Linked DNA regions of Homo sapiens. The protein of the gene in region 2 interacts with the protein of the main gene of each other region in a pairwise test. Each region holds a gene or a part of one and is shown on either strand. Other genes may lie near its edges. The genes, in order: DCBLD2 and TSPAN2.

What was found.
Region 1: the proteins of TSPAN2 (region 2) and DCBLD2 interact in binary tests that used the Homo sapiens proteins (3 or more experiments, as listed by UniProt).

Annotation. Positions count from the first base shown.
Region 1 is NC_000003.12:98,895,606-98,908,612, forward strand, and holds the start of DCBLD2 (discoidin, CUB and LCCL domain-containing protein 2 precursor), read right to left. Parts: upstream 6,091-13,007; 5' UTR 5,722-6,090; coding exon 5,517-5,721; exon of another isoform or gene 1-5,516.
Region 2 is NC_000001.11:115,051,503-115,063,632, forward strand, and holds part of TSPAN2 (tetraspanin-2), read right to left. Parts: intron 10,731-12,130; coding exon 10,633-10,730; intron 9,037-10,632; coding exon 8,962-9,036; intron 7,480-8,961; coding exon 7,381-7,479; intron 6,107-7,380; coding exon 6,035-6,106; intron 1,961-6,034; coding exon 1,877-1,960; intron 1-1,876. UniProt on the Homo sapiens protein: May play a role in signalling in oligodendrocytes in the early stages of their terminal differentiation into myelin-forming glia and may also function in stabilizing the mature sheath.

The DNA.
Region 1 (13,007 bases), on a different chromosome or scaffold from region 2:
TCTCCTACTTCTCCAGGAGTTGTGAGCTTTTTCTGCCTTATACAACCTTCTTATAACCTTCCTTGATTATTATTATAGTAGGCGTCTCCTGCTTCTCCAGGAGTGGTGAGTTCTCTCTGCCTTACATAACCTTCTGATATCCTTCCTTGGTTATTATTATATATATTCCAACTTGAATTACTTTCTCAAATAGACTGTAGGTTCTCTGAAGACAATAACAATGTTTTACTCTTCTCTGAATGTCTCAGGACTATACTGAGGTACATGCACACTCTCTTGAGAGTTCACAGTTGGTACCCCTTCATACTGATAGTTCTTAATGAGAGAATGATAAAGAGTGCCAATACCTTCTCTTTGATCCCAGGCAATTCAGTTTTGAAGGCAAGGTTGCACACACCCTACTCAACAAAAGCCTTGCAGGGAATTCTGGGCCACTCTCCTTAAAAAGCAGTTGAGGGAACGTGCATCTTGGGATTCTCCCATAATTCAAGCAGCAAATCAAAGTTTTTCTTTCAATTACACACCCATCAGGGTGCACGTTCAGCTGGTGAATGATGTTTTAGTAGCCCTTGGAAATCATGAGTATCTCATCAGCTTCAGTGGGTACTGCACTGGCACTCATTAGATACTAGTTTATTTGAATATCTGTATTTTCTGTCCTCATAGGTTGTACTAATTTAACCCAAATAATGAACTGAAAAATTAGCCTGATATTTGTTTCTAAACTAACATTTTGAACTGAAATACTTTCTCAAAGATTTTTCTCCAGAATGAAGAATTCAATTAAATACAATAACAGCTCTGAACAATACAGTAATTACTTTATAAATACTGAATGTCTTATGATAAAATTTTGCATTTTGAAATTTTTGTTTTACTGTATTTTGTAGGTATGCTTATGTGTGCTAAATTAGCCTATAAGTTAATTTTACATGAACACACTATTAAAATTACAACTACAAAAGATTATGCAGGTATGTGAATATGTAATAGAAAGGAAAGTTAAAAATTATAAGTCGATGGATTAGAAGACAGAAATGTGGATAATCATCTACGTTTTTAGTTTTGAGTAATAATCATTGTTATCCATACAATATTTAAAAATAAATACAAAGTCCTATGGCCGTAAGGTTGTTATAAAGAAAACCGAATCCAGGAGCCACATCAGAAAAATTGCCAAATTGTCTCACTTCATATTTCAACAATCACACTTAGCAAATATCACTATCTTTATGAAGCTTTTCCTCATCCTTCTACTGTTGGGTCATCATTCCATATCCTTCCAAATATATCAAGAAGTGGAAGCAGAAACTGTCTACTTGTATGCATTCAATTAATGTCCAACATTACTACCTGAGCTTCACTTCCCAGTGTCACTTTGCTAAGTGTAGTCCTAAATTTAAATTCTACTCCTATGTAAATCTAGCCCTTTCCCACATACATGATCTATTAACTTTTGGAAATTAATTTGTCATTTTAATTCTACTACTGGTATTTTACTTATGCCAATTCCACCATTTTAAGATATTTTTACATGTTTGTCTTTAAAATGAGGCTCAGATGTTCAAATGGAATTATCAACTATCCCCAGGGAAAATAATATGTTCTTTTTGTTTCTAACACTGAGAAATCTACCTATAATTTACCTGCAATCTTAGAATCAATTTTTCATTTACAAGTTTCAAAAATGTGCTGTTTCAATCTGATCATTCACACGTGTGGATTGTGTGCTGCTTCTAATTTTCATTTTGTAAAATTAATTAGAAATATAGCAGAAAAGGATGCTTTGATTTATTTGCTTCTGAACAAAACTGGATAAGAGCCCCAATGTTTTATCAGACAAAGAAAAGACAATGGAAATTTCTAAATTAACCTAATGTCAATGTGAAAAATAATTACAAATGTTTATTTGCAGAGAGAAATAAGTTTTTATTTTCTGGCAACTCACAAATATTGTTCAAAAATATTTCCCTGCATCACAAGCAAATAAAGGCATTCCTTGACAGAATATAAACTTTTTCACATATTGGTTCCAAATATGTTCAAATAACTGAAACATCCTTTTTAAGAATGAACCTGATTTGTTTCACAGATTAAATTAGCAAAGAAAAACTAATATCTTCACAACATGTTATATATTAATAGGCCCAAACAAATCAGGCTTAATGGTTTTTAAGAATTAATTCCCTGATATTTTACCATGTTCAAATTACATTCTAACCAAGAAAGTAGGCAAGCCTTCCAGGATACAAATGAGGAAGCTGAGCTCCTGATATGAAGTAACCCAAATTCCTACAGTCATAATGGAAACCAGAGACCTAAAATCATAGTAAACCATCAACTTCCAATAAATTTAATACAATAGCAAATATGCTACCAGCATAAGTTTCACCAATTTAATTTTTTTGAGAGGTACATTTTACAGAAAAAAAGTCTTCAATAAAAAAGATTTCGAAGACCAACTTCTTGATATCCAACTTAGAACTCTACACAAATACAAGCCATATGTGAAACATCAACATAATAAATAGAGGTAAACAGAATATATTTATAAATTTATAAGTGAAACAGAACTGGTTAAAATACATCTGTTGTGAAAAGTCGGTAAGTTTTCAAACTAATGATACATTTTATTCGGAGCCAAATAAAAAGAAAGGTCATTGTGAACAGAAAATCTATTGAGGAATAGCTATGTATGACATTAATTGGAATGAAGGTAATATATTCTGCTATTTCAAAATGATGTCAGAAAGAAAAAAGACACTGAAGCACATTTCTACCTCTCCATACTAGATGCATTTCTACCTTCAGTTGTCAAATAAAGAAAAAAAATCTATCAAAGAAACCTTTTTTGCAGTTTAATTTTTATTCTGACTATATGCGAATTACAGAAAATTTAGAAAAGTATAAAGAAATGTCCCACAATTTTACCACCAAAAGACAACAACTGTCAACAGTTTATTTCCTTCCAGTCTTAAGACTTCTTATAGAGTAAAAACTCTACCTTGTAGCTGAACATTACAACATGTACAAATCCCATTAAAAATTCTAAAGGTGTTTTAAACAGACTTCTTTTCAGGTTATGTGAGGGAATATCAGTAGACCCTAAAGAACATCTGTTAGACTGGGAAGACTGGCTTAAAAGGAATTCCACCACGGGCTGCTTTAGGGTCCTTTGAGTAAAAAATTTAATTTTTAAAAATGAGAAAATTCAAATCTCAAATAATTGTGAGTTTTCAGATGATGTATACCTAATTAGCTCTTAATTTATCAACTTAGTAAGATCGAGATTAGTAATAATCATTTATAGCTATTTTAAGCTTTTCCCTTTGCAAAATTCCTGCATACTATCATTTCATTTATATTAAGCTATGAGATAGGTATGCATGCTCACCTTAATGATGTAGAAAACTGAGGTACAAAGAGATTAAATATTAAATGATTTAGCAAAATTTACCCAAGCAATTTAGAAGAACTAAAAAAAAAAAAAGTCTTTTAATTATCAGAATCATTTCTATTTATGTTGATGTTTACATAAGATGACACTGTTAAAGAGAAATGTATTTGTTAAAATGTTCTGGTAAAAAAAAATTATATTAAACCTTAAAAAATGAAGTAATGTTGCTTGTCTGATTAGACTGGCTATTTCTTTTTCTTTTTTTTTTTTTTTTTTTGAGACAGTCTCGCTCTGTCGCCAGGCTGGAGTGCAGTGGCGCGATCGCTGCAACCTCCGCCTCCCGGGTTCAAGCGATTCCCCTGCCTCAGCCTCCTGAGTACCTGGGACTACAGGCATGTGCCACCATGCCCGGCTAATTTTTTGTATTTTAGGAGAGACGGGGTTTCACCATGTTGGTCAGGATGGTCTCGATCTCCTGACCTCGTGATCTGCCCGCCTCAGCCTCCCAAAGTGCTCGGATTACAGGTGTGAGCCACCGCGCCCGGTAGACTGGCCTTTTCTAAAAACAAGGCAATCCCTCATTTGGAAGGTAGACATGTAACTGATTCTATACTGTTCCAAGATTTTTTTTAATAACATGATACAAACACTATCAGATCCAGAAACAAGCAAAGCAGAGTACTCTGCCTATGGAGTAATATGCCCTCCTGCATCAAGGTACCTTATATTCTTTGTGTCTCAATGTCCTTACGTTTGAACTGGGATAACAATAACTATCTCAGCTGATTGTAGTGAAGATTCAAGGAGTTAATAAACCCAAACCACTTAGTCCAGTTGTTCCAGCCACAAAGTAAGCCCTAAGTGTTAGCCATATATAAGCCTGTTTTCCCCCCTACCAGGAGGGAAATACATCTCTACAGTGGAAAGAAGGATTTCACACTTTAATATATTAAATGATGATGATGTTCAGTAATTTTAGAAGACGATCTAACTAAAACCTAAATGCTAAGCATCTAAATTTTGAGTTACTCTATATAGAAACGTGTCTAGATGTAAGGGGTCAGTTTGCCAAATACATTTTTTCCTTATAGTTACAGAGATTATATTTCCACATGCCTGTCAAGGTTCGGCATCTTCTTAATGACAGGCCATGATTCCATACTTCACTGAAAACCATGAGAGCAACATAAAGCTGGGCTTAAAGGCAGAGAACAATTTTCTTTTTAAAAAACTCTCTTCCTAGCAATAAGTAACAATCCAATCCTTATCCTTCCCACTGCAATAAAATGGAAAATGCAATGGAAATATCTTTTCAAAAACTGATGCCAAACTGATTCAAAAAGTGTGGTACACTACGGGAAAACAGTACTAAAGGGGAAAAGAAATCACCCTGCATTCTCCTTCCATTATGATAAGTATTTAATAAACAGTTTTGCCTGTTTCTGGAACAGGTTTTTCAAGGATTGTAGGTGGAAAAAAAAAAAAGTTTTGTCACTTTCTGGAAAGGCTTACCTTTTTAATGTGGAGAGCTTCACTTGGGCAAATTAGCATAGCGTTGGGTCAGACCCAGTGTTTGACCAAGGCAGTCTAGACCACCAGCCTCAATGATGGATTGTAAAGAACATGTTCTGAATCCAAGACTCAGAGATAAGCAGAAACTATTCCATTCGCTTCAGAACCCGGGCTCTTTCACAAAGGATCATAATTACCACCACTTACCTTTAATAGGCTTAAGATGCTATTTAATTAACCTGCCTTCCTACAGTGTCCATCCATCCGTGCAGCTTAACTTTAGGGGTCATTACCTCCAAAGGTTCTTTTTCCTCCCCAAAATTTTCCCCAGAAGGACCTAATATCAACGAGGCTTTCATAGCAGGGTCTCACGTCCCCCTTTCAGAAAAATAAATGGCCTTGCCAAAAAGTAAAGCCGCGCCAACTTGGGGGACAGACGGGCAAGACCTTGCCTTTGCAACTCAACCCCGTGAGTACCCAGCCAGGTCCGGCCACGCACGAAAGCGCACCGCGCCTCCCTGCAGCGTCTGCAGATTTGTTCAGGGGCCAAGAGACCCGCAGCCCCGACGGAGGTTCCCCCGCCGCTCACTCCCCTGGGACCACTCACCTTGCTGGGCTCCAGCGTCCTCGAGCAGCAGGAGCAGGACAAGTAAGAGCAGGAGGAACAGAGGCATGGAGAAGGAGGAGGAGTTGGAGCAGGGAGGGAGGGAGCGGGAGAGGGGGAGCGCGGCCCAGGCGGGGGCGGCGGCCGCGGCCCGGACTTGGGGACACTGCGGGCAGCGCCTGGCTCTCACCACCGCCCGGCTCGCCATCGCGGCGGCCGGCAGTCTGCCTGCATAGTGCGGGTGCCTCGGCAGCCCCGCGCGCCTCTGGCCGCGGCACCCGACCAGGAGACGGCGGCAGCGGCGGGAGAACAAGAGGCAGCCCTCGCCTCACCCCGCGCCGGGACCCTTCCGCCCCTCACCCCGCTTTCACCTACTCCTCCTTCGTCCCTTCCCTCCGCTCCCCGCGCCGAGACCCCAGGCCGGAGCGCAGGGGAGGGGAGGGAAGGAAGCGGAGTCCTCGAGCCGCGGAGGACGGCCGCGGCGGAGCTAAGGAACGTGCCTCCCGCGCCGCGCTCCTCACCAGGGTCGCCGCTCGCCGCGCTCACCCGCGGCTCCGGCTAGCTGGCAGGCAGGCCCGCAGCCAGCTCCCTCGCGCTCCCTCTCGCGCGCGCCGGCCACGCCCCCTAGGCACCGCGGCCAATCCTCGGCCAGCTCTGGTCCGTCTCCTTCCGCGAAACCCAATCAGCATGCTCGCTCCTCGCTCGACCCGCTAGTTCTCCGGCCCATTCCTCGAGCTCCACCGCCCCTTACCTCCCTCTTCCAATCCCCTTCGGCCTTTGGAGGCGTCCCACCCGCCTCCTCCAATCCAGGTCCCGCCCTCCAGCTTCGGATCCCCGCGGCCCCCGCCCGGCCCGGGCGCCTGTTATTGTTGGGCCCTCAGCCCAAACTGATCCCGCAGAGGCGGCAGCCAGCTCGTCAGTGACTTCCGGGACGTCCCCCATCCCGCGCTCCCTGCTCCTCAGGCCCAGCTTGCTCCTTGCTCCTTTCTCCTCGCTCCTCCGACGCACATCAGACCACTGGAAGGGGGTGGGAAACCTGGATCCTGGGTTGTTTTAGCTGGGAGCTGAGTCTAAGGGACTTTTTTTTTTTTTTTAATGGCAGAGCGTGGCTTGTTTTGTTAAAACTGCCGCCAGTTGTTGCAACAGCTCCGAGTTAGAATAATAGATGCAGTGTTCAGTTTTTAATATATGTGTTCCCTGTTTTCTCTGCTCTTTTTATGGCGGGGGGTGGGGGACAAAAAAGTGTAAAACAAGATCCGTGCCGCAAAGGCAATTTAAACCTAACATCCCAACCTTCATGCAGCCATTCTACAAGGAGTTGTTGAGCACCTGCTGTCTATCTACAGAAATCTTGAAATGTGGAACAGAGATGGAAATATAGCATGCAAGTCAGAATGAAGTAAGTGCTAATTAGAGTCACAAGCAGTTTGATGGAGACTGTAAGCCTATGGAACGACAAAAAGAATTTTAGGAAAGAGGAATGCAGAGGTCTACGCAGTGATTTATTTTAGAAGAGAGTGGCCATGTAGGATGTTTTTAACAGCAGTCCCTGAAAGGACAATGGTGTCATTAGCAAATACAAAAAACTGCTAAGGTGGAACAAGTTGTGTGGGAAAGTAAGTTAATTTTGGACGTATTGAATTTGAGATGCCAACTTAGATAATAAGTGAAGCTATGTAACAGGCAGATGGATATTTTAGTCGAAAGCTCAGATTGAGAGCTTTGAAATTATGGCTCTGGGAGTCATACATAGCCATACATGTATACATATACATATGTATACATAGTCATACATAGATGTGATATTCAAAAACATGGAAGGGACTGATATCCTTCAATGAAAGTCTAAGTTGGAAAGGACTTTGGAGGTCGTATGTTTCAACTCCCCTGCATATTTCTTATACAATAATCTCTTTAACCAAATTTATTCAATTAACATTTATTAAATGCCTAAGAAACCCTATTATGCTCTAAGCCATTGTGGGCATTGGGCATAAAAAGTTTACTGAGAAGAACTTACATTCTGGAGGAGGAGGTGACATGTAAACAAACCTATTGTTATTAGTGCCCTGTTAGAGGTGTGGACTGGTGCCACAATACCACAGTGAACGGAGTTCAAAAAAACCCGTCAGTTTGAAATGCCAGTGTCTTGAATAAGAAACTAAAGTGAAAAAGGTGATCTCAGGCCAGAGGCAAAATAGGCTGGGTCACAGGCTCAATAGGGAATGGTGTTGATGGAGCTGGATTGACTACTGCTGACGTAATGGGAGGAACTGGAGACTAGTCTGGAAAAGTTAGGAGGGGCAAGATGTAAGGCAAGCTAAGAGTCAAGATTTTATTTTGTATCACTGGAAAATAACTAAAGGGTTCTAAGAAAGAATGACATTGTCAGTTTTTTTTTTGTTTTTGTTTTTGTTTTTGTTTTTTTTGAGATGGAGTTTTGCTCTTGTTGCCCAGGCTGGAGTGCAATGGCATGATCTCGGCTCACTGCAACCTCTGCCTCCCGGGTTCAAGCGATTCTCCTGCCTCAGTCTCCCTAGTAGCTGGGATTACAGGCATGTGCCACCGCACCCGGCTAATTTTGTATTTTTAGTAGAGCCGGGGTTTCTCCATTGTTGGTCAGGCTGGTCTCGAACTCCCGACCTCAGGTGATCCACCCGCCTCAGCCTCCCAAAGTGCTGGGATAACGGCGTGAGCCATCGCGCCCGGTCATTATCAGGTTTTTATTGTAAAAACCCCAATCAGCCAGTAGGGTGAGGAATACATTGGTGTAAGAGCAAGACTGGAAGCCAGGGAGAGCCAGTCTGCAGTTAAAGGGAGTGATGGTGAGTTTTTAGTGCATTAAAAGTGGGCTTGGGAAGGCGGGACCAACTAGGGGAATATTTTTAAACTTGGTGACTGATTATGTGGAGTGTAAGGAGTTGAGGAAGTCTCCAGGTTTCTGGTAGAAGGTGATGTCTTTCCCACAGTAAGGAGTACAAGAAGGAGAATTGGTTTGGTTGGATAAAGAAGTAGAAGTTAAAAATCATAAATTCAGAATTGAACCTATCAGACATGATGTGCTAATGTGGCAAGCAGTCAGTCATGAAATAAGATTTCTAGTAGTAGTGCCTGAGACAACCTATTTCATGTGGAATCACTCCTTTCATAGGACCATTGAAAGAGAAGCTTGAGGTCACAGATGTGGTGGCAGAGCAAGGTAGTGTGAATCTTAGCCTGGCATTCTATTGACTACATAGAACTGTGGCAGAGGCAGAGAATTCACCTAAGAACTAGCACAGTTATGGAGCATTTCTGGAAGAGGCAAAATTTGGTCTCTAGCAACCCCTACCCCTTTAATATAGCAGGAAAAGATCCCGACTACATACGTGTAAAGCAAGAGGAAGGAGCACTTACATTTCTCATCACTGTTTTACTTACTGTCTAGTGTTTTAAAGTTGTTAAAAGTAGAGACTAGAGAGGTGAAGAGGTTCTGAATTAGGTCACTGGCAGGGAAAAAGAGAGGGAGGTGGGAGCAAGTTGGAGTTATATTTAAAGCAGCAAAATCAGAAGGTCTTAGTGACTGATGCCATTTGACTATTTCTGTGTTATTTTATGCCTCAGCTTCCGGAGTTTCGCTTTGGAAGACAGGGTCTGGAAGTCTGGCTAGAGAACATTTGTGGTGCCCCCTATTGCTTTATGTATATAGAAAATTACAAATATAGCACAGATGTGGGAGAGGATTGATGCTGTTGCACCCATATTCTCTCTTCTGATTATTGTCTCTCTACTTAGTTGCCAAACAATGACAGAAGGCTGCTCTGAAATGATCAAAATTTTCTCCTGGGACCTCACACCAAAGGAATATAATAGGCATTCATTTCTAAGACAATGCGGGTAAAGTGGAATTCTAGTTTATATTACCTTTCTTATTCTCTGCATGCTGCTCTAGACAACTTTGTCATGATCCTTGCTTCTGGGGACTTGGTTTGTTTGGGGAATGACATCTTATGAGGCAGTGGGAGCAATACTTGTCCAGGACCATTTTACCCATGCAACCCAGATGCATAACCCAGGGGCAGAACTGGGGATTCTAATCAAGTCTCAAAGTGGATAGGTTTGGAGAGGGCCATCATTGTAGCACATAGAGGCTCCAAGAAGCTACAGTTCCTCCACAAGGCAAGCCCAGGTTCTGGCTTCTTTTTACAGGGTTTCAAAAGTGTGTATTATTTTATTGTATTTCTGGTTGTTTACTCTACATTAAGATATTTAAAAATAAAAATAGATTCTCAACCTAAATTTTAATTTTTTATCTCTCTTCCTCTTTTTCTCATTCTTTATTTCATGTTTCTTAATCAGTAAAGAATGGAAGAATAGGCCGGGCGCGGTAGCTTACACCTGTAATCCCAGCACTTTGGGAGGCCGAAGCGGGCGGATCACGAGGTCAGGAGATCGAGACCATCCTGGCTAACACAGTGAAACCCTGTCTCTACTAAAAATACAAAAAATTAGCCGGGCATGGTGGCGGGCGCCTGTAGTCCCAGCTACTCGGGAGGCTGAGGCAGGAGAATGGCGTGAACTCGTGAGGCGGAGCTTGCAGTGAGCCGAGATTGCTCCACTGCACTCCAGCCTGGGTGACAGAGCAAGACTCCCTCTCAAAAAAAAAAAAAAAAAAAAAGACCGGGTGCAGTGGCTCATGCCTGTAATCCCAGCACTTTGGGAGGCTGAGGCGGGCAGATCACGAGGTCAGGAGATCGAGACTATCCTGGCTAACACCGTGAAACCCCGTCTCTACTTAAAATACAAAAAATTAGCCGGGTGTGGTGGTGGCGGGTGCCTGTAGTCCCAGCTACTCGGGAGGCCGAGGCAGGAGAATGGCATGAACCCAGGAGGTGGAGCTTGCAGTGAGCCGAGATGCACCACTGCACTCCAGCCTGGGTGACAGAGTGAAACTCCGTCTCATTAAAAAAAAAAAAAAATGGAAGAATGAAGAAAATCAAATTAATCTATAGGGAAAAGGGGAAATATAAAAAGAATAGTTACATTTTACTATTCCTACTTTCAAATGAATCCAAGCTCAGCCAACTGCTAAGGAAATTAGAATGTAGGAAAAGAACCTGGGGGCTGGTGCCTTTGTTTCTGTCTGTGCAGAAACATCTGGGTTTCAATGAAATGGTACCGTAAGAATCATTTGGCACCCATCATTGCTATTAAATGTCTGTTAGCATTAATGAAACAAAAGAGGCTCATTAAAAATGGCATTTATACTGGAAACCTTAGGAGGATGGTATGTAATGAATCATTGGTGAGCTTTATCAGTGACTGTGTATTTTTGGCAGGATAACAGAAAGAGGGAATGAACAAGAATGTACTTTTGTGATCTTCCAGTGGGGTAGGAGAGAAAGAAGATTGTGGCAGTTCTGGGGAAATACTTCAAACATCAAAGACCAGAGCCTTAAGATCTGGTTACTGTTCTCACAGGAGCATTTTCTTTGTCCTGTTGACTGTTTGGGAAAATGTTTACAGCCAACTTTGCTGCTAAATGTCTGAATTCCGCTGAAGACACTTTCTTTCTGTGAACAGAAGTGTTTTGGACACATTTTTCTCTTTATCTTGTATGCTTTTTTCAGTTACTTATTTCAGTCAACTCTCCTAAGTTTATTACTCATATTTTCTTAACACTTATAAACTTTTTAAAAGATATTTGTTATAGCAAATTTAAGGCAAAAGTGCCAGAAATCTAATTTATTATAGAAGGTATTTAATTTCTGCCAGTGGATGATAATGTTAAATATTTCTCTTAAAAGATTAACATTTGTATATATCAGCAACATGACTAACTTTTAGCATTTTCCATTTGCATCTTCATCTACTGCAACCATCTTACTCTCTTTCTCTCTCTCCATCTCTTGCCCCAGTCTCTCTCACACTCTTGGTTTTTCTAGGAACTTTAGGAAATTAACCAATTCATTTTCTTATGGGTCATGACAAGAAGAAGGCTTCAGTCTAGTATTTTATCTCTGATGGAGATTTCAAAGGATTTTAGTAAAAGCATGTGAAAACTGCCTTCCATAACATTATTATCATGCCTAGAAATTAGGAAATTAATTATACATGGATGGTTAACATAGCAGTAAAATGTGAATAGTGACCATGCTAGTATATCTGAGATAATATGATTTAGGTAACCTGCAGGCCTCCCCTGCTATATGCCTGTATCCTTTCCTGTGGGACTTTTGCTGGCAACGCAGTTGAGAATTAGATGTACAGAGTTGAAATGCTCTTTGGATTCTGAGAAATTAAGTTTTGTGAGATAATGGAAACAGCCCTAGATAAGACTCTTGTATACAATTTCTGCTTGAAAGTGCTATATAACCTCCAGCAAGGCTCCTAATCTCTCTAGACCTCAGTTTCCTTGCCCATAACAGAAAATGATGGGATCCTATTCTAAATCTGAAGTTTGATAATACTTCCAAATTTTCTTTATTCACATCTCCCTTTCACCTCACGTCAAATTCTAAGTCTTCAGTTCCCAGATTTCTACCTAATGAGGAGGGAAAAGAACCAAACGCTGATAACTACAGAATTGGTCTCTGGGAAATAATTGTCTTTGCTGAACACCAGTGCACCTTAAAGGGTGTGTTTGATTTGGAAAATAATCCTCAGGTCCCCCAACTGCATCCCAGCAATGTCTTAATGAATGGAGGCTATATGAATAGCCCCAGTTTTATTCTGTGAAAGAAGCGAACAGAACCTTGGACAGGCAGGGTAACCTTTTCAGAGAGGAGATGGGGCCAGGTCAGAGGAAATAAAGCTGGTTAGCAACTTGGCAGGAAGCTGGAGCTTCAGAGATGTAAGAAATATAATTTCCCACTCATTTCAATGCAAAGATGCTTTAAAAATAGGGATATCTAATAAATAATTTCAAGGTGTTTGCTATATATGCTATACTGTAATCTTCCCCTTGCCTTCCTCCCAAACTCTTCATTAAGTTTACTACAATCACAGCCTTGATTGGGGGAGACTTTGGGCACTGTGAGTGGAGGACATGCCTATTTCCACATAAACAAGGGCAGCATCAGCAGGTGGTGAAATGAAAGCATGGATCAAGGATTCAGAGGAAGCAGAAGACTACTATAACTAGAGATTTTGAGAAACTTAAATCTTCACGCCACTCCCCACTCTCTTGACAAGAAACTAGGTTCCCATCCCTATATAAGTCAGGATGTTTGAACCATAGCAAGCTAGAGGATTTGGAATCGTCCAGGCAAGTGACATCTTTCACACTAGGATAAGCAAATAATAATATAATAATTCAAATTTTTATTTTCTAAGAACGAAGAGAATAGAATTGAAATTGGGTGCTCACTTCGGTGGCACATATACTAAAATTGGAACAATACAGAGATGATTAGCATGGCCCCTGCACAAGGATGGCACGCAAATTTGTAAGCATTCCATATTTTTCAAGTCTGCAAAATAACCAGCTACCATCATGATGACAAGATCAAATCC
Region 2 (12,130 bases):
GAATAGAAGAATGCCAAAGAGTCTTCTTGTCCGCTATTATTTCCCCTACAATTTTGTAGAGCCCATGGAACCCTATCTGTGGGCACCATTCCATAAACTACTGTCAATGCTTATTTTAAAAAATGGGTACTATAACTTTCTGGTTCTCTCCTCAATTCCATCCTAAGTCAGACTAGGATCTGTAAGTGCTAAATTCAATAAGATATGAATGATCAGTTGTTTTGAAAAGGGAGGGGCAGAAGCAGGTAAGGGCATGGCCAGGAACAGGATTTCAAGCTTCTGGATGACAGGACTCAGTACCAGTGTGTAGCACGGGCGACACCCAATGCACTTTTAGTTAGCTGATTACATTGTGCAACTCTCACTTTACAGAGAAAAGAACTAACGAAGAAACCTGGGGGTGCCGACTCAAGATAGGCTCACTATGGGCATTTCCCCTTTATCATTGCCATAAGGTTGGATGTAATCCCTACCCATCCTGGTTTCAGTGAGACTCCTTCAGTCTCAGCCTACTGCCGACACGAGTCAGGGGTGAATGCTTCTAGGCTGCTCATTTGCTGAGATTGTGAAACTCTCCATTATGCAGCACACGCTCAGACCTGCCTCAGGACTGTCCTTTGGGGAGCTGCAGAACTGCAGCCAGGCTATCCCCAGAGCAGGTGGGGAGGACCTGAGAAATGTCCCTTGATTTGGAGGGCCTCAGCAGAGTATTTCCAGCCACTTCTCCACCCCTCTGTGCTCTAAATACAGAAAAGGGGAAGGCGCTTGTGTGTCCCCTGATAACTGCAAATTCACTGATTTCCTCACAATTCCCACAGCCCTTGCCTTAGTTTAGGCCATGAATTAATCTACATAGAGGGCTAGAGACTAAGTGCCATCTTAGCATTAGCTATTATCATCCAACCCCTGGACAATGGAAATCATCCTTTAACCCGCCTTCCAAATCCAATCTTGCCTCCCTCCAACCTTTCCTCTATCCTCTACCACAGGTTCTTCCAACTCTTGGTGACTCCCCTTTCCTTAAGGGTGAAGCCCACCCTTTCAAAGGGGCATACAAAGATCTCAATGATGTAGATCGAATACTCTCTCCATTACCACCTCTCGCAACTCCTGCCATACCTGTCCGCTGCTATCCATTCTTCCCACACACTCTTCTTTTGTACTTTAGAAGTACAGAGCCACCTGGTGGTGGTCTGGATGCACTACGCTTAATACCATCTATGCCATTGCCTTTGCCTGGTAGATTATGCAGAGAGCTGGCATTTGTTGAGTGTTATATGTCCCAGACACTTTATTTATATTAATTTGTAATACTACTGTATATGTAGTATCCCATTTAATTTTCACGGCAATCCTATAAGGTTTATATATTAACAGACGAGGAAATTGAGGTATAGAAAAATTAAGAAATTTTCCTGCGATCTCAGAGCTTGCAAATGGTGGAGCCTAGAGTTAAATCCAAACCATGTGATGCCAGAGCTCGCCCTATTAATCTCTATGCTCTGCTGCCTCTTCAAATCGTAGGTGAGAGAGATTAACCTGATATGTTGCATTGAATTTGTAACAGTAGAAAGAGACCCAGAACTGAAAATCATTTATCTAGGTTATGGATAGTAGCCTTAAAACGGGAAGTTAATAACAATGACACACTCAAGGTCATAATGAGTTAAAGTTGAAATTTCTATTATATTTTAGAGGACAAACTATTAATATATTTATGAGCTTTGTTCTTAGAAGATGTAATACATTGTGAACAAAGGTCTTTTTTCTTTATGAGAATTCTCTCTTAAGATACTATCACACTTGAAAAGAAATAAGATGCAAAGTTTCAAGGCTTTTTAGAGGGCAAAAAGGGTAAGTTCTAGAACTTTCTCACCGTCAGACCTGCAATTCCAATACCGACAATTCCAATGAGCTGGAGCTTAACACTGATTATGGTCTCAATTTCATCGATGCAATTCTGTTTTGAGGAAAAAAAGTCGGGAATAAAAACTGATTGTATGTGTCAGTCATTATCCTGATCCTATCCTTTCCATCTCTACAGTTCATTCTGTGAGAGTTAATCCATGCCAGCTTCTACTCATGTTTCAACAATTCATCTTTGATAACATCATCCTAATAAGCTTAATGCAAAAATGCAGTTTGGGGAAAAAAATAGAAGCCTCTCCTTTGGGTGAGATTTTCATGTTTAGGCCAGTGGCTTCTTCGGAGCCCTGAAATATAACTGGAGGAAGCTATTTGTCTGGTTCCAAGGAATCTAAAAATTTGGAGCCACTTCTTACTTGTAGCAAATAAGTAAAATACCCTTAAAACAATAACTCTTTGTTTTCATATTGTCATTTACAGTTTAAAATACTTTCTATGTCTTTGACCCAATTTACTATGCAAAGTAGGCATGACCTATTAAGAAACTAAAAAGTCTTAACAGGTTCAAGTTAAACAAAGGAAAGCCAAGAATTAGAAAAGCCAAGTCTTGGAGCTAGAGGACCATTCTCTCCTGTGGTGGCTGGGCTGGGCTGTGCTGGGTGAGTTCCTATCCTTTCATCTGTGCCCATAAGACACCTGTGCAGCATAGATTCAAAGGGCCTTCATGGATGTGGGGAAACTTAGACAGAAAGCCAAATAGATCACCTGTAACTATTATTAGTTTCTCCAACTTCAAACACTCCTATTTGGAGTGCTCTTAAGTAGAGGGATGCTCTCAATCCAACTGTACCCTCAGGTTGTTCAGATCTGTTCACTTGTCACTGGTTGGTTCCTTTGATACCATCTGAGCTATATAAAACCCTTACTTCTCTCTTCGTATTTCCTATCACACTTCATTCATTCAACAAACATTTCTTGAGCATCTACCTTGCATTAGTCACTGGAAGAGGGGTGGTAGATGCAGAGACAATAGGATATGGTTTCTCCTGCTTTCTGGGAATTCACAGTTTAGAGGACACAGATCCACAAGAGATACCTATAATGCATTCTGACAAAAGTTTGAAAACTACTCTTCTAAGGAGTGGCTCCCTTACTTAGTGGAAAAAATGAGAGTCAACCTATAGCAATTCTTTCACTCTTCCTCTCCTTCTCCTATACACTTAGATGCTCCCTTCCTTCAGTGCCAGGCATTGCTGTAGGTAGCAAGCACACTCCTGACTCCTTTTTCTCTGATCAGAGCCAAAGAGGTGCCCTTCTCTGTTGAAAGTTAACCTCATGGCTGGGCGCGGTGGCTCAAGCCTGTAATCCCAGCACTTGGGAGGCCGAGATGCGTGGATCACCTAAGGTCAGGAGATCGAGACCAGCCTGGCCAACATGGTGAAACCCCGTCTCTACTGAAAATAAAAAAATTAGCCGGGCATGGTGGCACCTACCTGTAATCCCAGCTACTAGCGGGGCTGAGGCAGGAGGATCACTTGAACCTGGGAGGTGGAGGTTGCAGTGAGCCGAGATCATGCCACTACACTCCAGCCTGGGCAACAGAGTGAGACTCTGTCTCAAAATAAATAAATAAATAAATAATAATAAAAGACAGTTAACTTCATATCCTGCTTTGGGTCTTTCAGCTCCTCAGGAAGCCTGCACTGCCAGTTACTTTTTTTCCTTCCTATACATTCAGCCTCTCCTTATCCATTGACATTTCTACTTATCCTATCACCATGCTCAGTTCTTCAATCAAAACAAACAAAACAACACTCGAGACTGTCCTCCTCTAGTTCTGCCATTAGGCCCTCCTTCCCTTCATTGCCAGCTTCTTTTTGTAAAAAACAAATGTACAAAAGGTATATTGGCTTTAGTCACAAAAGGAATACATGCTTCTTGTAGAAATCTGGAAAAGAGATTTTTTTTTTTTTAAAAAGAAATGTCTGTATTCTCACCATAAAAGGTAATAAATTTGTTGGTGATACTTACACACACAAACACACCTACACCCTTAGGTCATTCTTTATATTCAACAGTGAGCTTTTTAAACTTAATATTACAACTTTAAAAATGCCTTGTTTCACTAAAAATTTCTTTGAAATCATGATTATGATGATTATTTTTTTTTTTGGAGACAGAGTCTCGCTCTCTCACCCAGGCTGTAGTGCAGTGGCGCGATCTCGGCTCACTGCAACCTCTGCCTCCCAGGTTCAAGTGATTCTCCTGCCTCAGCTTTCTGAGTAGCTGGGATCACAGGCACATGCCACCACGCCTGGCTAATTTTTGTATTTTTAGTAGACGGGATTTCACCATGTTGCCCAGGGTGGTCTTAAACTCCTGAGCTCAGGCAATCTGCCTGCCTCTGCCTCCCTAAGTGCTAGGATTACAGGTGAAATCATGATTCTTAATGGTGGTAAAACATTTCATCATATGAATATACTACAATTTATCCAAACAATCCCCTATTGCCACATATTAAGGGTCTGTCCAGTGTTTTGTTCTTATGAATAACATGTAATGAGCATGATTTGCACAAAAACGTCTGTCTGCATTTCTGATTCCTTTTCCTTAGAATAAACTCCGAGAAGTGGAATTTCTGGATAGAAGGGCATAAACATACTTAATCCTCTAGTCTTACATAGTCATACTGACCTTTAAAACTATTTACTAATTTCTCTGAAAATGCTCACGACATCACGTTTACCAAAACTGTGTATTATTGTTAAGGGAAAGGAAAAACACTTGGTCAATTTCATAGATTAAACAACAGCATCTCTTCATTTTAATTTGCTATTGATTTTAAATATTACTTTTAATTTTCTATATTTTCTATATGTTTAATGGTAATTTGGACTTTGACTTTTGTAAACTTTCTTTCTGTGTCCTTGGCTCAAATCGAAACTTCTTGAAAGGATGCTCTCTCTCCTCACATCTCGCTCTCTGAAACCTGGGCTCTGTCCTCAATCCATCCCTCACAGCACGTCACCAGTTGGTTCCTTGCATGCTAAATCCTGCCAGCTTTTCAGCAGTTATTAGTAGACCTTCTTAGGCTTTCAGTTCCCCACACAAACCATGTCATTTCTGCCTCTGTGTTGTTGCTTACGCTGGTCTCTCGGCACGCAGGCCTCCCCCTCCCGCTTTCTGCCCAATGCTTGCATAATTACTTTCCATTCTTGAAGATTTAGCTGAGACATCATTACCTCTGTCAGCCTTCCCCATCCCCCAGCCTCTCGCCTCTCCTAAGTGCGTTTCCCTCTGTGCTTTCCGAGCACGTTGCACATTCCATGCATTCCTAATCACTGGACCGTATGGACTTCATGTTCATCCCTCCTATCAGACTGCAATGCAAGCTCCTTGTGAGTAGGAACTTTTTCTCCTTCTCCTTTGCATCCACAGTGCCGAACATAAGGTAGGCAGCTGATCAATACTGAATTGCCCTCAACAGCAGCACCTGGGCCTGGTGACCATTCCCTCCCCTTCCCGTGCTGTCTCCTCACTTGTGTCTGGCCGCCCCTCCCAGTTTCCTTCTTTGGCATCTCTTCTTTTGCCCACCCTTAAATTGTCCCCCAAGGATCTATCCTCATCCTTCTTTTCTTCCAAGTCTAATGGATCAAATCCGTATTTATAGCTTTAAGTTTCCCATCAAGTGCTGACACTCAGACCTCTCTCCTGAGCCACAAACCAGATTTTCCAACTGCCTACTGGATATTTCCATTTGGAAGTGCCACTGGCTCCTCAAAATCACCATGTTAAACACAAAGCTCATTTTCTTTTCTCCACAATTGGCTCCTTTTCCTCTCTCCCTCAGCTCCATAAATGACACCATCATCTATGTAGGTGGTGAAGCCAAAAACCCAGTAATGGATTCTCCTCTCTTCTCTGGTCACCACTCCTGTAGTTGTCACTTTCTAAAGGGCCCTCTTTAACATCTCTTGCTAACAACAAGGACAGCAGCCTTCCCAATGGGTCTCTCAGCTCAACGCTATTCATTTTCCATCAATCCTCTATGCTGCCACTAGAGCAAATTCAGTAAAATGCAGATCCCATCCGAGATTCTACCTTCAATGGCTTCCTAAGCTAGCAGCATGATACTACAGGTAGAGTAAGAACCTTGGTAGAAGCTTACCTTGTGTCCTAGAAGCTCCTTTGGGCATGTAGGTTGGACCTGTTCGGAGCTTTCTTTTCCACAGCACTGAAACTAGAGAGTCAGAAAAGAGACTTCAGGACCAGGCGGGAGGAGTAGCAGCTACAAGTCTGGGCACCCTGCTAAGGACTGGGGTGCCGAGGCGGCAAAGCAGCTCCGAGGCCCAGTCACTGCAACCCAGACTGCTATTTCTGGAAGGAGAGTGAAGAATCACATAATCATGCTGGCAAAACAAGAAAATGACTTCGCTAAAGCCATCTGAGTTTATGATGGGAAGTGACTCAAGGCAACCCAAACAAGGCAAGAAGCTAATTGACAGTGTCTGTGTAAATTGCTACTTTTTAGAAAGGGGTTGGGGCTTTAGATTCCTTCTTTCAGACTGGGAGTCATTTAACCTGCTGAGGAGCTCAAGTTTTATGAGCTGCAGAAGGACTCATTAGCTGGGAATAGTCTGGGGAAGAGGGGAGAAGTGGCTGCAGGAAATTCCAGGGTCCAAAAGACCAGATTTGAAGATTGGCCAGCAAACAGGTGTCCTGCTTAGGCTAGCTGGCCCTTTAAGACAAAAGAACCTGTGTGCTGCTTCAGGTCCTGGCGGCAGCTGAGGTGAAACCGTATAAATGTATAAATGGTGGCCACTTTCCAAGACATACTTGTCCTAGACAAGAACTAGGTACCTGAAAACACCTGGCCCAGGAATTCACAGCTACTTCTTCATATCACAGTGTCTAAAAAATCAGAATAACTCTGGCCTGGCCCATCTCCTCTGTAAGCCTTCTGTGATTAACTGCATGTAGCTCTGAGCACTCCACGGACAGCACAGTCCCACTGAATGTTCCAGAAGGGAGTGTAGCCATCTCCTGTGACCCTTCATTCTACAAATGAGGGAGCTGCGTGGGTATCAGGGAGGCCAAGTAACTTGCTCAAGGTCACAAGGCTGTTGAATGGTAGAGCTGCAGCTAGAAATTAGCTTTTCTGACTTACAGGTCACACTTGTTTCTGTTACACCACAATGCTACCCTCTGACAAAGCCTGCTATTTATCTGGGCTCCTTTCTCTGTAACCTTGTTTGTGCTCTTTTGTCTCTTTGGGGCATGTGTCTTTTGGGTTCATGCTCTTCTGTCTCTCTTGTGAACTCTGTGTGATAGACATCTTTCCCTTCTAGGGTTCCACACATAATGCAAACTGTGGCCCTCAAAAGGGCTAAAATAGGTGGTGCTACTTGGCTTTACTGAATTTATTTTTATTTTTAATCCTGGTGATTGGTGAGAACCTGGCTCACACATAATCTTTAGAAGCTGTGATTTTAAGGAAGAAGTGAAGTTACTCACTGTTGAGTGGAAGGTGATGAGTGTCCCATTGCCTTTTCCCCTGTCTTTAAGGTAATCATTGTAAGCCTCTTCATACATGGTCTGAACATGTCGGATAGCCTGAAGAAATACAAGGAAAAATGAAGGACTTCTGGGTGGGAAGTTTCAAACATTCTCCTTTCATCAAGGAAAATCTCCTCTTCCACACCTTTGAAAAACACTGCCTTTCTCATAAGAATGATACAATGGACTTTGGGGACTCAGGGGAAAGGGTAGGAGTGAGGTGAGGGATAAAAGACTGCACATTGGGTACAGTGTACACTGCTCGGGTGATGGGTGCACCAAAATCTCAGAAATCCCCACTAGAGAACTTACTCATGTAACCAAACACCACCTGTTCCCCACAAAACCTGTAGAAATAAAAAAAAATACTGCCTTTCCATAGGTATTTTAGGATAATTCAGCAACATATGGAGAAGATTATAGTTTCTGGAGTTTCTAAGATGCTTTTGAGGATGGAAGGACAGACTAACCAGAACAGTTTTCATGGACTAGAAAGATTTCTGACAGTTCCCAAGCCCAACTGGGCTTCAGCATCAACTGGGCCCCAGATTCCTGGGCTCCATCCAGATGATTTGGATGCATAGCTAGGATCCGGACTTATACATTCCTGTTACCCCATTGGTTAAAAGCATTCAAATCTTTTTATGACGTGGTTTAAAAGGTATTCATCACCAAGGAAAACTTTCTACATTCAGATATCATATAAAGCTTAGAGAATGCTTTTTCTAGTATAAAAGCTTGTGATTTCAAATCCACAGATATCTCAACAGGTCCTAAGATTCCATTCTACTTCTGTATGTAGCTGAATTTAAACTAACCTATGAACACAGCCAGTTACTTTAGAAAAATTCAAAAGGAGGTGACATTTACTATTCTACATGTTTACTGTTTTATAGTCTAAAATAAGTTCAGAAACATAATATTAATGACACAAGAGTTAATGTGAAATACACCAAACTTAAGTTTCCATTCTTCCTCCTTTTCCATTCCATTCTCTTCTATCCCACAGTGTGTTTTACAGAGGAAGAAAGGCTACTTCCTCTGTGTGTCCCCCCGATAACCTATTCTGGACACCTAGAGTTGGGCAGCAAATATAAACTGGCTTCACTAGCCCACAGCAGTGTAGGCTCTGCTCTTTGAGAATGAAATGGACCCATCCAGGCCAATCCTTAAGGACAAATGGCAGTCTGACAGGGGATGAGAATCTAGATTCTTTCTCAAGTCTGTACTCTAACTGTTACCCCATTTCACAATGGGGAAGAATCTTAAATTAGAGATCCTTTTTTTTTTGGTTTTATTATAGACCACTTCATAAGTCTAATGGAAGAGATGAACTATCTCCCCAGAAAAATGTGAGCATGTATATATGCCTGCACACTCATATACATATATGCTCAGTTCTGCACACCACTTCTAAGTTAAAAAGTTCTGTTTAAACTATAATAATGGGGATTATTTGGTTTCTTAACACTATTGTGGGTATCAATATTCTAACACTTTTAACCATCATAGAAAAACATTATAAGTAATTTTACTTACTACCCCCTTGCCTATAAAAGCAAATACTCCAGTGGTTACTTCAGCAGCAAATATCACCAGGAGGCAGGTAAAAAACTGTAGAGGAGAGAAAATACTAATTTCATTAATTTAATACCTTTTCAATTTATATATTTTGCACCTTAGTTTCCTTATGTAATGGCTGAATCGCTTTCATGTGGTTCATTCATTCATTCATTCATTCAGCAATTGTTTATTAGGCATTTATTCTGCACCAGGTACTGTCCTTGGTGCTGACTATTCAGTGGTGAACAAGATAATATCCAAATGTCTCTGTTATCACGGACCTTGGATTGGACAGAGGAATATACGATAACTGTGTAAAGAAGTTAAAAAGTGAATAAGATAAGTTCAGGTAGTGATGTAAAAATCCCACCACCTAGAACACCACCTGGCACCTACGTGCTTAGTAAATACTTGACGAACACAAAAGACCTAGAAAGATATAAAATAAGGTCAGGAGAGGGAGCATCACTGATGCGGCCTGGGCATGGGGAAGGGGGTGACTGGAGATTCTGTGGTCTGGAAAGGCTTCTTTGAGGAGATGAGGTGAGGGGTGTCCTTCTGGATGGATTTCTGTTCTGGTCTATGGATTTGCTCTGATCAAACTAAGTTCAGTGATAAACAAGACAGAAATGTGCTCAACAGTAGGAGAAAGAGAAGGAATGAATGGCAAAGAAATAAGTCAGACATTTCACATAGCAAGAGATCAGAGGCTACGGCCAGAGTTAAAAATCCAAATATCACAATAAGTAATGAGAGATGAGAGGCTGCCTATTAAAACTGCTGTTTCTGACTCCCTGTGGAGAAATATCAACACTTTCTCTCCTCCTGCCCCTCTTCTTCCTTTCTGTTTCTCTCAGGCTACACTGACATAGAATGTATAGCAGTTAATTGAAATTATTTGATTTTTGTTTTAAACAGAGGTTGCTTGTTAAAATAAGCCACAAGAGGGATTTTGGTTAAGTTATTGATCTCAAACATAAATGTTTTCCTTGTAGATAACAGCACTTCCCTGGCTATAGAAACCTTTTAGCTGCCTCACCCACTGTGAAATATTTTTTTTTAAAGAACAATCATAGTCACCCCTTACAATTACTAAGTACTTTTACTCCCAAAACATCTTTACACCAATGACGTCATTTCTTTTCACACTTCCCATATAAGGCAGGAACAAAGATAATATTTTTTTTCTTTTTTCTTTTTTCAAGACAAGGTTTTGCTCTGTCGCCCAGGTTGGAGTGCAGTGGTACAGTCATGGCTCACTGCAGCCTCCCAACTCCTGGTCTTAAGTGATCCTCCTGCCTCAGCCTCCTGAGTAGCTGGGACCACAGGTGTGTGCCATCACACCCGGTAGAGACTAGGTCTCCCTGTGTTGCCCAAGCTAGTCTTAAACTCCTGGGCTCCAGAGATCCTCCTGCCTCAGCCTCCCAAAGTGCTGGGATTACAGGCGTGAGTCATGGCACCCGGCCCTAGTTAGTATTATTCATATATAAGAGATGGAGAAACCAAGACTGAGGGAGGAAAAGTGCATGCCAAGGGCTCAGAGAGTCCACGGAGGAGCTGGAGCCAGGGGCCAGAGGCACTGACTCCCTTCAGATGCAGGCCGCTCCCTCACCCCCACCCCACCATTTACCCCCTCGCCCCACTTACTGATCCAAGCACACATTGCGACTCCCGCATGGCTCCGCAGCACCCGAAGAACCCCACGGCCATCATCAGGGCCCCGGCTCCAACCAGAACATACAGCCCTGTGGGGAAGAGGTCAGAGGAGACCACTGAGAGCCAACCGAGTGCCTCCACGACCAACTAGGCTTAAGACTCTGGGCACTGCAGAGCATTCTAATAGTACCAAAAGGAGGTGCTATTCTTACTGCCATGTTTGACACGGAGGAACTGGGCCCCAAAAGGTAAAGCGATTTGCTTAAGGTCATAGAGCTGGTGTTTGGCAGAGCCGGGAGAAAAATAGCCATGAGCCTCAAAAGCCTGCCCAACACTCCGACTCTGTCTTGCATCTCTAGTGATGGAGGCAGCCATCATTCAGGTGGGGATTTCACTTACTGCTTAGGCAAGCCCCACGTACAGTTCTTACAGAGAAAGAAAAGGACAGAAATGCTCTGGTTCTGAGAGAACTAAAGCCAAGCCTTTTTGTATTTCCTTCTCTGATCCTGAGATAAGTTAGAATACAATATGGGACTTGGCACTTGTCTTACTTGGAATCATGTTAATGGTCTCTATTTCATTTTTTGCATTTTACTCATATGAGTCACCTGGAAACCACTCCCATTAATAGGGAGGGTGGGGGCTGGTGCCCCGCCTCTGTGGGGAACCCCTGGGCCTGGCATTCAGGGTGCTTCCTGGGGCGCCTCTGGGTTGCTGATGGTGGTTTGCGGGCAGATCTGGCAGTTTACAGACCTAGTAGGAGCCACAGGCGAGGCTGCTCTGCTTCCTGCCCCACCCGGACCTGGCCTCAGCGTTCTTTTCAGGGCCCTGAGGCCTTGCTGCTCTGCAGTCCTGAGGTGGGTATTTATTTCCTGCTGTTCTAGCTCTACCACCTCCTCCCTTTCCCTTTTCTCTAAAAGAATAATTTCATGAGGGAATGGATGTGGTAATGTGAGAAATGATATCATATTAAAAATAATAGTGTTGTTGGCCCCACTACCTCAACACTTTATTGTTTTAAAAATGTCTTTCACCAAAGGTCTAATATCCAGAATCTGTAAGGAACTTAAACAAATCAACAAGCAAAAGGCAAATAACTCCATTAAAAAGTGGGCAAAAGACATAAACAGACAATTCTCCAAAGAAGACATGCAAGCGAGCAACAAACATGAAATAATGCTCGTCATCTCTAATCATCAGAGAAATGCAAATCAAAACCACAATGAGATACCATCTCATACCAGTCAGAATGGCTTTTGTTAAAAAGTCAAAAATAACAGATGTTGGCAAGGCTGGGAGTAAAGGGGACACTTTATACAATGTTGCGAATGTAAATCAGTACAGCCACTGCAGAAGGCAGTTTGGAGATGACTCAAACAACTGAGTTGAACTACCACTCGACCCGGCAATCCCATTGCTGGGTAAATACCTAAAGGAAAATAAGTCATTCTGTCAAAAGGGTACATGTTCACTGCAGCACTATTCACAA